2 linked regions of the Homo sapiens genome follow. The protein of the gene in region 2 interacts with the protein of the main gene of each other region in a biochemical or structural test. Each region holds a gene or a part of one and is shown on either strand. Other genes may lie near its edges.

Region 1 (8,261 bases), on a different chromosome or scaffold from region 2:
CTTTTCAAGGTAAGAGGAAGAGAAAGGCCTTCCTTTAAGTATAAAGGCAAGCAAGGCCAGGCACGGTGGCTCACGCCTGCAATCCCAGCACTTCGGGAGGCCGAGGTGGGTGGATCACCTGAGGTCAGGAGTTTGAGACCAGCCTGACCAATATGGTGAAACCCGCCTCTACGAAAAATACAAAAATTAGATAGGCGTGGTGGCATGTCCTAGCTACTGGGGTGGCTGAGGCAGAAGAACTGCTTGAACCTGGGAGGCGGAGGTCGCAGTGAGCTGAGATCACGCCAACGCACTCCAGCCTGGGTGACAAAGCAAGACCCTGTCTCAAAAAAAAAAGTATACATATTTAAAGAAAGCCATAAGACTAAAGCTATCCTGCCTAAAGCTCTAACAGTCACTATCTAGATATTACTGGTGGAGGTATAGAGTCAAGGAAGCAATTCATCAAGGAAGCAAAGGGCCATGCTTTGACCCTCTATCCGTTTCATTGATAAGTAGGTCACAGCATTCCTGGAGAAGCAGCTCAATTAGAAATACCATGGGAAATACAAAGAGACTACCAAGTTTAGTGTCTTCCCCCATATGGGGTCACCCAAGCCTCATTCTTAGAGGCCTGGTAGCACCTCAACTTTAGATTATTTCTAAAAGATTTATTTCAAAAGTTTATGTATATAGCTTTAAAAAGTAATACAGAAAGGCCTATATGAAAAAACAATGGTCCCCTGACCATTGCCACCCAATCAATTCTGATCTGTAGAGAAGACTATTTTATTCCATTAGCTCCATTTTTTTCTCATCTGATGGCTACCTTCACATCTTAATAAACGTATGCAGCTAATAAATGTATGCAGCCATTCTTTTTTTTTTTTAGATGGAGTTTCTCTTGCCAGGCTGGAGTGCAGTGGCACAATCTCGGCTCACTGCAAGCTCCACCTCCCAGGTTCCAGCGATTCTCCTGCCTCAGCCTCCCAAGTAGCTGGGACTACAGTCACGTGCCACCACGCCCAGCTAATTTTTGTATTTTTAGTAGATATGGGGTTTCACCTTGTTGGCCAGAATGGTCTCGATCTCGACCTCATGATCCGCCTGCTTTGGCCTCCCAAAGTGCTGGCATTACAGGCGTGAGCCACCGCGAGTGCTGGGATTACAGGTATGAGCCACTGCGCCCGGCTGCAGCCATTCTTAATTAATTTTTGGGCATCTAAAGAATCTGCTTTCTTACCCCTTCACACATTCCTTAACCCCATCTTCTCATCTTGCTCATTTTAATAAATCAGTAAACAACATTTACCATTTCTATCACTCTGCAACTGTTGTTCATTATATAGTAGCCTTTAAAACTTAAAAAGGGAGGTACAAATTTTTCCCTTTGATTCCAGTAATTTATCCTCTATGGCAAAGTTTAAGTCTAATTTTCATTCGTACCTCTAACCGGGTGACTGAAAAATATATAAATATAAACCCGCTACAAATGGGACAGATCTTACTATGATAGGCTTCATAGATGGCCTTACTTTTCTTTTTCCTGTTCATGGTAGTGAAGGAAGATCATTTAAAGGAGGGGATATACAAATACACAAGGGAAATCTATTAATGGTAAATTGCATACCTAGGTGTAAATAAACTACCTCAGATCCTCTGTACTACGAATAAATACCAAACTGAATAAACTTAGGAATTGACCATCATCTATCTAACTTCTAGGGCTGTGATCATAAATGGCAGAATGTCTTATTTAGTGTTTCAACACTGGGGCAAAAGGGAGAACATATCCTTGTTAACATAAAAGAATATAGATACTGAAAAATAGATTTTTCATTTATCTAGAATTTTAAAATCTAGAATTCTAAAACAGAAAATTCCCCTATGTTCAAAATTGATGTCCATAATGATACTCGAAGCATTCTAAGTGTTTTCTGAATTGTGAAAGTTTAATTTTTTCCAGTCAAGTTTGCATTATACTTCAATTCATTAAACATGGTCACTGCTATGGTGACCACTGTAAATTAAATGGCCAGCAATTCAGTTAACAAGAACCCCATCTCCCTCCTTTCATGTATTTGTATAAATATAATTATTCTGAACAAATGTCACGGAAACATAAAAGTATGATACTCACACTTGGCATACAGACAGTCCATCATTGACTGCACTAAGTCCAGTTTGGCTTTTATGGAAAAGTTGATAAAGTTGGTATCAACGAGGATGTGGTAAGGTGGGCCCAGCTGTGTATTATATTGGAAAAATAAGCAGGAAGGGTGTTGGGGACTGAAGGAAAAAGAAAACAAGAACAAAGAAAAATTTACATTGATACCCTAGTATTAACAAAAACAAAAAAGAAGTCTGCTTGGGACTGTTTGCTGTAAACTCTTTTGTCCATGTTCATTGGAAATAAATCCTAAAAAGGAAGGCAAGGAAGAAAGTAATATCATTATCTTAATCTCAGCTCCCCTGGCAACCTTTGTCACCAACTTTAAAAAAGCAATTATCAAAAACAAACAAACAAAAAAAGCAATTATCCAATCTAGCTCTTCCTCTAGCAAAAGTAGAATCACCATGGGCACAGGGAGGTAGAATACAGTTATCGTGATTAGAATGATACAACAACACGTTTGTCATTCTTAAAGGATTCTAAAACTGCTGTTATGGAATGTGATAGAGAACAGTTTGTCTAGTGTTAGGATTATATACTACAGCAGGACCTGTATCACATCTAGCCCAAGTTGTCTGGGTTGAATATGACAGTGATTCCAAATGCTAGGCCATGGATCAGTATCTACCTGTGATAATATGTCCATTACCAATCCAGGGAAAAATTAGAAAAATAAGGAAAATGTGGTAAAGTTTTCATAAAGTTAAATGTACTTACTTAAAAGGAATGAAATACCTTTATATCTTTATATAAAGGTCATATCTTTATATAAATATCTTTATTCTGAAAATATATTTTAAATATTTTTTGGTGATACAGTCTCTCTTTTATGAACTGCTGGTGTGTTAAACAATGGCACTTATGTCTCTTAAAAGATCCCTGGCAAAGAAAAAGTTAATAATCCTAGATAATATCTCCAGGATTTTAGGGGAAATTTTACTGCTCCATAAAATCCCAAAACCTTCAAACCACTAGAATTGATATATGCTCATCGATATGACTTTCATCTACATAGTTGTGCTAGACTTACTAACAAATAAGTTAGCAAACCAGCTCAGGGAAAGCCTGGATTTCTAAGAGGTCTATGGTTTTAAAGGAAAACTTCAAACGTTTGATTACTCACACTTCTCTTTCCTTTAATGCGCTGGGATCCTTCTTTTCTTTCTTTTTAGGTTTTAATCTATCCTTTTCTTTACTAGGAAGAAAAAGGTAAATTAAATCCAAGGGAGAAGAAAAACCACAGCAATTAAAATCTCAAAAATCTAAAGTTCCATTTTTTTTTTTTTTTGGTCTACTGAAGAAATCCTACTTTGTGATATCCTCATGTTAATATCAGCATACTCTTTCTGAGCAAATAACTCTAGTGCAAAGCACAGTACCTGGAAGTATCAGAATTAACCAGTAATGCCAATAATGCATAAGAATTGTTAATGAGTAAATAAAAGCTGATTATACTATATTTATTTTTTAGTCAGAATCTCTCACATCAAGGATCACAATCCACTTCCAAGCAATGGGTAAAAGGGTGACAGTTATCTTCTGAAGATTCAGATGCTTTAACTTTTGGGGGAAAAGTATTACCCCATATGCTTCTTATAAAGGGCTAAAATGTAAAAACGCATATACAGAACTTAACCCTTAACTAGAAAGAAATTATTATTAATGGAGTGTCATTCCTAAAAATTACACAATACATCCACACTAAAGGCTGAGAATAATAATTCTGAAGGTTTTAACGACTATTCTCTTATTCTGAGACTCTTTTTTGTATTTTTAGTGGAGACAGGGTTTCACCGTGTTGGCCAGGCTGGTTTTGAACTCCTCACCTCAGGTGATCCACCCGCCTCAGCCTCCCAAAGTGCTGGGATTACAGGCGTGAGCCACTGCGCCCGGCTTTCTGAGACTCTTAAACTCAGTGAAGATCAGTCTTTATTTAATAGCTATGCTTATTCTACACTTAAGCAGGGACACCGCTTTGATCCTCTTCATACTAGGGAATTTCACTTCACTTTCTTCTTCCACAGTGATTTGGATTCTTATATTAGTAAGACTTATAAAATGGAGATATCTTGGAGTTTTCCCATTTTCTCTGACAAAAATATTTGAGTACCAGGCACTGGAAACGCCAGACAAACAAGGTCTCTAACCTTGCCATCTTTCAACAAGAAACACTCCCCTCGCCCCACCCCAGGGGAATGTAGTAGTGTAATGGTAAAAACATAAAGAGAACTATACGGACTTCACCGAACTGACATGAGGTTTAAATGCGATATGGCAGACAAAGCATATAACGGTAGAAAAAGTGAACACTTAAGAAATGTTTAATTCCCATCGCCTTTCCCAGTGTGATCGCTCAGCAGCTAAATTACTGTTAAACACTGGCTATCTCATGCTATATAAATCTAAGACACGATAATAAGCAAAAAACAAAATAATAACAACAAACATTTTTACTACTTATCCTCTCTAGACTCTTATTAGAATATCCCTGGGCAGTTGATTCCAGACACTCACAGCCTCTGATCTCTGAGACTAAGCATTCGCTTCATGGTCGCATACTTCCTTGTTTTCTTTTGCTTCCCCTTGAAACAGAAATTTTAGAATTAAAAAAGTTGGAAACACACGGCATCTTTTAAAGTCTCTTCTTTTCTCTTGTCTATTGCCTTCCCTTCTTGCCTCAAATAACCCAGACCCTCTTCCCCACTCTGTAAAGCATAACAGTCACCGCTTGGAGAAGTTTAAGAGCTAAGACCAGAATGAAAATATGCTAGGATAATGTGAAGGAAATTTGGCCACGGTCTGACTACCTCCTTCTCCACCCAAAAAGTGGCCTGATAACGTCCCTTCTTGGACCGTCTTCTCTCACCATGGTCACGCCAAACTCCTGGTTCTTCCGTAATCACCAACGGCGCAATACTTCTACGTCATTCACATACTGCTTCCGGCAAAGGATAGCCCGGAAGCGGAAACTCCTTGGGGAAAGGGCAATCCCCCGAGCCGGTTCCCAGGCCGGGTGGAGACCAACTCTGGGGTCTGTTGGTGGGAGAGTGGGGAGCCCGTCTTCTGCTGAGTGCTGCCGCCCCTTCCCAGGACAGCGGAGGTGGAACTTCGTCGCGCTGCAACCCCCGGCTCGGGTAACGTTTCTCTCCAGCCTTAGGCAGAGCCCAGAAGACCTGCCTTTACCAGAGTTCCAGAGAGAGAGGGAGGAAAAGGGTAGGGGGGTTCAGACTCCTGGTTTGCCCAGTAGTTTGGGGGAACACATTCTCCTCACCCTGTAGCGTTGGGGTATCCGGTGTCTATGGTCCAGCCCTGAGGCTGTGGTTCCTATTTGGTTTTCCTAGCCGATATGGTGCTTTGTGCAGCTAGGTGGATGATTGTTCTCGAGTATATACCGTGTACTCCTCTCGGTGAAGAGAGAAATGAAGCAGTGTTTGAGGGCCTAGACTATCGCTAGAGAATTGGGGCATAAGCTTGCATATGTTACTACTTACCCAAGCCAAGAAAATGGTGAGATACAATGCACATTTATTGTGAAGCCTTGGTGTGTCATCTTTAAGTAAAAAGGGAGAATTTGTGAGAACAAGGAGCGAAAGGTAGCTTTTTTCTTTGAGTACCTGCTATGTATTCCAGTGGTTCTTAACTTTTTGGAGATAACTTATTTCTTGAAAGTTTGTGGAAAGCCAGGAACAATTCTTTAAAAAATGGGCACACATACAGTTTGTAATACACTTAATGAGATTGGTGGACTCTGAAGCCCATCCGTGGACCCTCTGGGTGTCTGTAAACTTTAAATGAAAACCCCCATCCTGTATACTGTACTTGTCACTTTATTCATATTACCTTCTTTGACCTTCTCAATAACATAAATTCTTTTATTTTACATATGGGGAAATTGAGCCCCAGACTTTGTTCAGGGGTCTGTTTGAGTCTCGTGATTCCAAAGTCTGTACTTGTATTTCTTTTTTTCTTTTTCTTTCTTTCTTTCTTTCTTTTTTTTTCTTTTTTTTTTTTTTTTTTTTTTTTTTTTTGCACTTTGTCTTCCATTCTCCAGCTACTGATCAAGCTGGGAACGGAATGGGTACCTCTGTCATACTTTTCTTATTGCATGATGCTATCCTAGAGTTGGAAGTAAAATATGTTATCAGGTTTAAAAAAGAAGGTGACCATTGTATAACCCTTATGATGAAAACACGTTTATTGTTTAACACGAACTTTGGAGTCTGACTGATGGGGTTAAAATCCTTGCTCTGCCTTATAACTCGCCATGACATTGGGTGAGTTAATCTATCTGCATCTCAGTTTCTTTATCTGTAAAATGGAGATAATCATAGTAGCACTCTTTTATTGGGATGTTATCAGGACTTATGTTTATTCATAGTTAACATGCGAGGTCCCTAGAAGAGTGTAAACCAGACTACTCAGAGTGTTTTCTGTTGTTACCATTGTGTGTCTTCCAACTTGAGGATGTGTGGCAGGGTTGGAATTTTATGCCAATTTTATTTTATTTTATTTTATTTTATTTTTGAGACAGAGCCTCCCTCTGCTGCCCAGGTTGGAGTGCAGTGGCGCAATCTCGGCTCACAGCAACCTCCCCCTCCCAGGTTCAAGCAATTCTCCTGCCTCAGCCTCCCGAGTAGCTGGGACTGCAGGCATGTGTGTGCCACCATACCTTGCTAATTTTTGTATTTTTAATAGAGATGGGTTTCACCATGTTGGCAAGGCTGGTCTCAAACTCCTGACCTCAGGTGATCTGCCCACCTCGGCCTCCCAAAGTTCTGGGATTACAGACGTGAGCCACTGTGCCAAGCCCCAATTTTTTTTTTTTTTTTTTGAGACGGAGTTAGTTTCGCTCTTGTTACCCAGGCTGGAGTGCAATGGCGCAATCTCGGCTCACTGCAACCTCCACCTCCCAGGTTTAAGCGATTCTCCTGCCTCAGCCTCCTGAGTAGCTGGGATTACAGGCGTGCGCCAACACGCCTGGCTGATTTTATATTTTTAGTAGAGACGGGGTTTCTCCATGTTGGTCAGACTGGTCTTGAACTCCCGACCTCAGGTGATCCGCCCACCTTGGCCTCCCAAAGTGCTGGGATTACAGGCGTGAGCCACCGTGCCTGGCACCAGCCCAATTTTATTTTAACATAGTTGCACTGGAACTTGAACGTGTTCATAAACCTCAAAACATTAAGTTTTCAGGTCCTGGGATGCTCAATCGCAGGGTGATTTCTTCTGTTGATTTGGGTGTAAACTTTTTCTGCTTCTCCTTTCTCTTTCAGGCACACATTCATTTAGATGGCTTAATAGTTTACATATCTGTGGGCACTGAATTTTTGATGTAGAAATGGTAGCTACAGATACTGTATGTGCCTTCTGCTTTACCCCATTTGTGGTCACTAGAAGTTCCTAATCTTTCTGGAGCAGCTTGTCTCTGTCAAGCTGCCATTCATGTGTAGAGCTAATAGCAACCAGTTTTTTGATGTATCTCTTGGTGATTAGACAATAAGCTTTTTATTGTCTAAAAGCTAAAATAACATGGTCAGTTATTCTTCTTAAACATTTGACTCATTAGTATTATATATAGGTTCAGAGGGAAAATTGCATATCATTAAATAGTAATTTGCATTTAAATTTAGGCACTGACAGAAAAACGCTCTTCTGGTAATGTGTACTTTGAATTTTGGAATCCATGAACAACAACAACTTAAAAAAAGGCCATTTGTAATTTCTATTGTAACCTCTATTGAGAGTGTTCTGATTTCCTTGATTGTTAATACCTAATAGGGAGCTAAATTAGTGTAGGAACACCATGGGGGATAAGAACATACTTAGAAAAATTTGTTTTTGTTGCATTGTAATTTTATTGCAATCTGAGGTTCTTATAGCGTGAAATGAAAGTGGTCAGATACTCTACAGCATTCTTTGATGGGGATGGAAAGTGGGGGATGCGAAGCTGGGAGGTAGTGTTGATTTGTGATGGATGGGAGCAGAAAGTAATTGCTTTTGGGCACATACTTGTGAGGAAAAGAAATGATTTTAGTCCTTCTCAGCAGTCAAGAGGGTTGTTTTGCATTTTTCTGCAGTCTTGAAGAGAAAAAATCACCCAAGGCATTGG
Region 2 (7,400 bases):
TAGAGCTTTGCTCCCTCTGAGGAGCAGGACTGCCCTTCTCTGCTCTTTGCTGACCATCACTAGGAGGGTTCATGCTGGTTGGGATTGGATGGAATTCCCAGGGCTCTCTCCTCCCCAGGAACTGCTTTATCCATAGCCCTGGCCTCTGTCATGCTCATAGGGCTGGAGTATATTTTGGGCCACAATGCTCACAGCAAGAAGTCCCTGCTGCCAAGATTTACTCCTTGAGGTCTTGTCCCCACCCTCCCCTGCCCCCAGAGAGGCCAAGAGTATAAAGGGAGAGGAGGGTCACAAGGCCTGGGGACACTTCTCTTAAGGATTCTAGAGCTGCAAGACACACTGATGGCCTCAAGGGGGAGGCCCAGACATCTCTGAAGATCTTGCCTGGGCAGCACCAATAAGTACCCCAGGTGGTAAACTTGGGGCATGAGGAGGGTTCTGAGGAACCAGAGAAACACATGAGAAGAGCCCCCAGCCTGAATTAGCGTGAAGTCAACTCTGAGCAAGACTGTGAAGCAGGCGGTTTGCTTTGGTGTATTTTTTAAAATCATGTGATAGATGACCAACTAAGCTGAAAAGGCCATGAGGCTTAAATTATTCTCCATTCCAGAAGTAACTTCCTGTTAAAAGGAGACTCTTGAAAATGGAAAAGGTTCCAAGCCCCAAAGAAATGACTCTAATGGTGAAATTTTCAGCAAGATGAGAAGTTCCTCTGCTTCTTCAGGTCAAAATCCCAGCATTTATCTCCTAAACGACCCAGCTCTGTAGATACATAGATGCCACTCCTCACCTGTCCTCCCATCCCCCAAGCTCCCACAGTGGGCCCATAGGAGGGAAAAGCACAGACCTTTTAGCCACCAGATGACACGATTGTACATTTCCTCAGAGACATCTGAAAGTAACAGAGAGATGGTTGCTTTTCTTCTCTCTGTGGGATGCACATCCCACTCTCCACTACTTGCAGCTCCCTTTCTAGCTCCACATTTCTCCACTCAAAGGTGCCCTCAGCCCTTGGTCCTCTCCAAGAAGCTCCTCCAGCCTAGGACTATATATCGTATTCCCACTCTCCCTTTCTCTTTTTTACACCCTCTCTCTGTGCCACTGTGAATGCCTTTCCCCTCCTGGAATCCCAGCTCATCTGCATCCCACCCTCTCCACTTTGTAGCCAGAGTATTTACCTGAGGCCCTTATTCTATTTAACAGCCCTTGCCAGCCCTCACCCCAGCTCAGTTCTTCATCCCCACTCAGGAAGCAGCTTTCAACCCTGCAAGCCCCTCTCTACTACCTTCAATTAAAAAGGTAAGCAGTGTTGCCTGGAGGAGTCAATGCCTGTCGCCCGGCCCAAGCATCCATCATCAATGTCATTAGCTTGGAGCACAGAGAAGCTGGCAGGGAAGGAATGGAGCAATAGGCTCAAGGATAGGACTAGCTTTGGCACTGGCAGGAGAGCAGCCCTTAGGCCCAGAATGAAGAGGTGGTCTTTCCTGCCCACCCCAACATCCCATCTCACTAAATTGGGGCTGCACCTGGGCAGTCTGCTTCTTCACATACCCAGGAAGAAAGCAGTAAACCTTTGAATGGGTTGTTTGCAGGTGTGCTTGGGGGTCTGTGGCACTTCACTCAGTGGTGCCCAACTTGGAAACTCCTTTGGTGGTGATGGTGGTGATAGGCTTGCCTTCTCTCTCTGGAACTTCAGATCCTCACAGAAAGGGCTAGAGTCTATTTTAAAACCGGACAATAAAAGATCTAGGGAAGGAGAGCACTTAGGCTCAAAATCCGGTGTTGTCAGCTGGCTTTGGGGTGTTTCAACTTCAGGATTCAGCAAGGGCCACCATGAGGAGTCAGGTCCGTACCTAGGTAAGGACCGAGGAGGCAAGGGCCTAGGGGTCAGTTCCAGTTCTGCATGGATGGAGGGCTTTTGCGAGAGTTCTGGATACCTGGGTGTAGGTCCTTGGGACATGTAAGTAATTTCTGGGGGTTTTTGGGTTTGCTGTTTATAGATGGGCTCTGGAGTAACAAACATGGATGACTTGTGGGAGCCCTCAGACACTGATGGAACTGTCACATGGTGAGTTGGCTCTACTGACTGTACCCCTGGGGAGATGGTGACCCTGCGGCCAACCTCGCTGTTTCCTCGGATTGGGGTCCTCACGTTGGACTCCACCTGTGATGATACTAAGACCTTTGCGGAGGGCTTGGTTTCAGGATAGGCAGAATACTTATGAAGAGACTCAGGGTCTACCCGTGCAGAAACTCGGTGTACACCATCAGAATCTTTAAGGACAGAGAGTTTGAGCAATGAGTCCAAGTTCATATTCCTATACAAGGCCTTGGGTTTTGAAGGAATTGGACCGTAAGGACCTGTTTCTGATTCTTCTACAGGGACCCTTCTCTGGGCTGTCTGATAGTCTGCAGAGACACAGCTGCTTCCGTGCTCTAGGAGAGAGGGACTCCTTGGAGATCTGATCTCACTAGTAGTCGTAATTCTTTGGATGGGCTCAGTTTGTACTGCTTCATCCTTTGGGTAAGACAAAATCCTACGGGGAACTCTGACTCCTTGGGGGTTCTGGACCTTGGATGGTGGGTCATCTTCTAAGATTTGTGATTGTAAGTTATTCTTCTGGTCTTGAAAACTCAACTGATGAGTAGATTTGGCATCTGGGATTGATGAAGCATGATGGCCGACCTCGCGCCCTGACTTGCTCTCACTGCCTCTTCGTGCTGCTTCCTCTCTGGGTGGACTAACTTTCCATTGTCTGCTTGAAGCATGGGAAGCCAGTGTCTGAGTCTTCTGGCTCTTTAGATGGGGAGAGGAATGGCGGGATGATTCTGTTCTTGGTCCAGTCTCGGGTCCCCGAGGAGTGGGTACTGCATAGTGTCCAGGTCCTGACTGGAGGGAGACAGATCGAGGGTAGTCTGATGCTGAATGGGGAGTGGTGGGATGTGCAGCTTCTGATCTTCGGTGGGAAGGGTTCAGGGAGACTGCAGCACTTCGATGGCTTGAGGCAAGAACGTACCCATGTCCCTGCTGAGGGGATGTGTTAGTAGTAACCTCAGACCCTCTCTGTGCTGAAACCGCTACCTTGGCCCCAGGTTTATTTGTCTTGACCATCTGATAGATTGTGCCCTTCTGAGTAGATCCCGTATTTTACTGGCTGGCTTGTATTCAGGATCCTAATGATGCCTGAATATTTACCCTGTTTTAAAGCTGCTGTTTCTTGGGCTCCCACAAAAGTGGCTGTTGTTCTAAGAGTGTCTCAAATAATCCCCTTAGCTACCTCTCTGTCTGGTGATGTCATAAAGGAAGGAGCTTCCTTCCTATTAAACATCCTAGTGTACAGCCACAATTCTTCACAGAATCCCAAAGAAGTACCTGAAAGGAATCTGTGGATTTGTCTTTGGAGTTATATCACCAAGCCTTTGGCAAGTTTTTAACAAAACTGGGATTTCCTTGTACATAGAGAAGGCTCCAGACCCTCCTTTACTCTCCCGAGATTCTAGAAATTCTCAGGACTCATCCAGAGAAGGAATCAGCCAGAAGATCCTATGAAGACAAGATCAAACCAAACACGCTGTGTTCGCCCCAGTTTTAATAAGGTACGAAGTACAAAGTTGCCCCAATTTTGTTTGAAACTGTACTGTATACAAGTTAAAAAAAAAAAAAAAAAGAGAGCTTCAGCTTTTTCCAGGTCTCATGGATTGTTTCATTGCTCCTGGGGTAAAAATCCAGGTTGCTCAAATAATAAAATTCTCACATTCTTGCTCCAGGAGAGTTTAGTGTTTTATTAATAAAAGGGATTTGCCATGTGCGGTGGCTCACGCCTGTAATCCCAGCACTTTGGGAGACCGAGGCGGGTGGATTGCCTGAGGTCAGGAGTTTGAGGCCAGCATGGCCAGCATGATAAAACCCCGTCTTTACTAAAAATACAAAAAAATTAGCCAGGCATAGTGGCAGGCACCTATAATCCCAGCTACTCAGGAGGCTGAGGCAGGAGAATCGCTTGAACCCGGGAGTTGGAGGTTGCAGTGAGCTGAGATTGTGCCACTTTACTCCAGCCTGGGTGACAAGAGCAAAACTCCATCTCAAAAAATATATATAAATAAAAACAAAATAAAAGGGATTTGGGCTGGGTGCAGTGGCTCACACCTGTAATCCCAGCACTTTGGGAGGCTGAGGCGGGTGGATCACCTGAGGTCAGGAGTTTGAGACCAGCCTGGCCAACATGGTGAAACCCCATCTCTACTAAAAATACAAATATTAGCCAGGCGTGGTGGTGCGTGCCTGTAATCCCAGCTACCCGTGAGGCTGAGGCACGAGAATCGCTGGAACCTGGGAGGCGGAGGCTGCAGTGAGCTGAGATCGTGCCACTGCACTCCAGGCTGGGTGACAGAGCAAGACTCCATCTCAAAAAAAAAAAAAAAAAAGAAAGAAAGAAAGAAAGAAGGAATTTGGAGTTAATCATTGGTTTCCATCATAAATGACTACAGGTGTACCTAGGAGAAATTACCTGCCTTCCCTGGGACTTGGTTTCTTCACCTGGAAACCACTGCCTGGTACATGGGTGTCACACAACAAATGTTAATGTCCTTTCTCATGATCCTGTCAGCTATCCAATCAGCCGGACTCCGGTTCTCTCTTGAAAAGTGACTTTCCAATTTGGATGACCATTTTGGAGGAGACTCTGTCACCTTTCTCTCCCTTTCACATGCTCTTTCTCTCATTCTCTCTTTTAGACATAGACTCTACCATATCCAAAATTCTATTATGAACTCTGAAGGGTCATTGAGATTATAGGATGGTCAGCTTCATTTTTCTTTTTTTTTTTTTATTTGAGATGGAGTTTCAAATAAACTGTGCCCAGGCTGTTGCCCAGGCTGCAGTGCAGTGGCGTGATCTTGGCTCACTGCAACCTCTGCCTCCCGGGTTCAAGTGATTCTCCTGCCTCAGCCTCCCGAGTAGCTGGGATTACAGGCGCATACCACCATGCCTAGCTGATTTTCTTTTTTTTAGTAGAGATGGGGTTTCACCATGTTAGTTAGGCTCGTGTCAAACTCCTGACCTCAGATAATCTACCCACCTCGGCTTCCTAAAGTGCTGGGATTACAGGTGTGAGCCACCGTGCCCAGCCAGTTTTAAGTATTTCTAAACCCTTTCTATTCCCCAAAATGAAAGCAGCTTTGGCTAGGTGTGGTGGCCCAGCCTGTAATCCCAACACTTTGGGAAACTGAGGTGGGCAGATCACTTTAGCTCAAGAGTTCGAGACCAGCCTGGGCAACATGGTGAGATCCCATCTCCAGCAAATAAATAAATAAATATTTTAAAAAATTAGAAAACAGTTTTACAAATAATTATAAAAAGTTGAAATCACCTAAGAGGACCCCGTTACTATTTTAATAAGCATCTTTCCACATTTCTTTCTATGCATTTACTATGTAGACATTTAATTATAAATTTACATAGTCTTATTATAAACTTCCCAGCATCCTAGTACTAGCATTATTCCATAACATGTTATGAATACCTTTCTGTCAATAAATCTGTATCTATGATGTAATTTCTAATTAATCCACTTATGGTTGTTCCAGAATGTTTCAAATGAGTCCTTTACTGCTGGACATTAAGTTGTTTCTTTTTTTTCTTGCTATGGTGCCCAGGCTGGAGTGCAGTGTCTGTTCATAGGCCTGAGCACAGCACACTAAAGCCTCAAAGCTTCTGGGCTCAAGTGATTCTCCTGTCTCAGCCTACTGAGTAGCCCACCTCATTTGGGTTGTTTCTAATTTTTCAATATTATAAACAATGTTGCAATAAACATACATTACTATAAATATATATTTGTGTATATTCCAATTTTCTCCTTAGGACAATAGTTCTAAATCCTGGCTGCACATTAGAATCACCTGGAGATCTTTCAAAGCCCATGCTCCACCTCAGACAAAATGAATCAGATAATTTGGGGGTAAGGCTTGAGCACCAGTATTTTTTTAAATGCCTCAGATGGTTCTAATGTGCAACCAGGGTATAAAGTTCTCTAAATCCTCTCTATTCAAAGTGTAGTCCGTGGACCAGCATCATCAGCACCACCTGGGAGCTTGTTAGAAATTCAGGAGCTTGGGGCCCACCTTGGACCTACTTAGTCAGAATCAGTATTTTAACAAGACCCTCAGGTGATACATATGTACAATAGAATCTGTGTCATACTGGTCTAAATGGAGTTTCTGGGTCAAAAAGTAGTCACATTTAAAATACATACTGACAAATATCCTCCAGAGAGGTAGTACCAATTTATACCCCCAACACAGTGAATGAAGATGTCTGTTTCCCCATACTCTCAGCAACCTTAGATGTTATCAATACTTGTCCTCCGCAATCAGTGAGGTAAAAAACAACCGTGTTTTAATTTGCATTTCTTTGATTACAAGTTAAACTGAACATCTTTTAATATGCTAATTGGCTGTCTGTACAGCTTCTTTTGTGAATTGTTCTTTGTCTATTTTTCTATTAAGGTGTTTGTCTTTTTCTTACAGGTTATTAGAACTCTTTGTATATTAGGGATATAAACTTTTTGTTTATCCAATATATTGCAATTATTTCCACCCAGTTTGTTGACTTTATCCTTGTCCAGACATTATTTGCAGTAAAGAAGTTTTACATTCTTAATTCCCAAACTTTATACTTTGGTATGTTTTTTGGACTATTTGGGTTTTTTGAGTTTTTTTGAGACAGGATCTTGCTCTGTCACCCAGGCTGGAGTGTGATGGTGTGAACACAGCTCACTGTGGCCTCAACCTCCTGGGCTCAAGTGATCCTCCCACCTCAGCCTCCCGAGTAGCTGGGACCACAGGCATGTGCCACCGCACCCAGCTAATTTTTAAATTTTTTGTAGAGATGTGGTCTCACTGTATTTCCCAGGCTAGAAACTCTCTATTATGTTCTATAATTCTTACCATTCTTATGCCAATGCCATACTGTTTATTGCAGCTTTATACTACACCTTAATATACGGTAGGACAAGTCCCTCCTCCTTACTCTTCTTTTGCAGCATTGTTTTCAACCATGCATTTATTAAAAGTCCTTTAATTTTACTCTACTATACAATTAGTAGTATCCAGTAGGAGAGTGGATTTTACTTATTTAACTCCCACAGGACCAACTTATTTCTGAGCTCTTGGGGGGCACCTCACTATAACCCACTTCCAATACCAACATATATGAGTACATAACATTACCATTAGCATTCAGAAAGAAGCCAAAAGTAATGTATTTGGAAAAGAGCAATTGAAATTTATTCCAAAAATTTCTTTTTTTTTTTAAAGACAGAGTCTCACTCTATTGCCCAGGCTGGAGTGCAGTGGCATGATCTAGGCTCACTGCAACCTCTGTCTCCTGGGTTCAAGCGATT

Evidence for each region.
Region 1: of the proteins of SEPTIN4 (region 2) and AREL1, one has a biochemical effect on the other in vitro, tested with the Homo sapiens proteins (one study listed by BioGRID).

What each region holds. Positions count from the first base shown.
Region 1 is NC_000014.9:74,709,958-74,718,218, reverse strand, and holds the start of AREL1 (apoptosis-resistant E3 ubiquitin protein ligase 1), read left to right. Parts: upstream 1-5,138; 5' UTR 5,139-5,286; intron 5,287-8,261. Other genes in the region: rRNA-processing protein FCF1 homolog, read right to left, coding at 2,120-2,268, 3,276-3,347, 4,667-4,734, 5,019-5,021. UniProt on the Homo sapiens protein: E3 ubiquitin-protein ligase that catalyzes 'Lys-11'- or 'Lys-33'-linked polyubiquitin chains, with some preference for 'Lys-33' linkages.
Region 2 is NC_000017.11:58,541,075-58,548,474, forward strand, and holds the start of SEPTIN4 (septin-4), read right to left. Parts: upstream 3,255-7,400; 5' UTR 3,113-3,254; coding exon 1,552-3,112; intron 893-1,551; coding exon 848-892; coding exon of another isoform or gene 692-847; exon of another isoform or gene 510-691; intron 1-509. UniProt on the Homo sapiens protein: Filament-forming cytoskeletal GTPase. Pro-apoptotic protein involved in LGR5-positive intestinal stem cell and Paneth cell expansion in the intestines, via its interaction with XIAP. May also play a role in the regulation of cell fate in the intestine.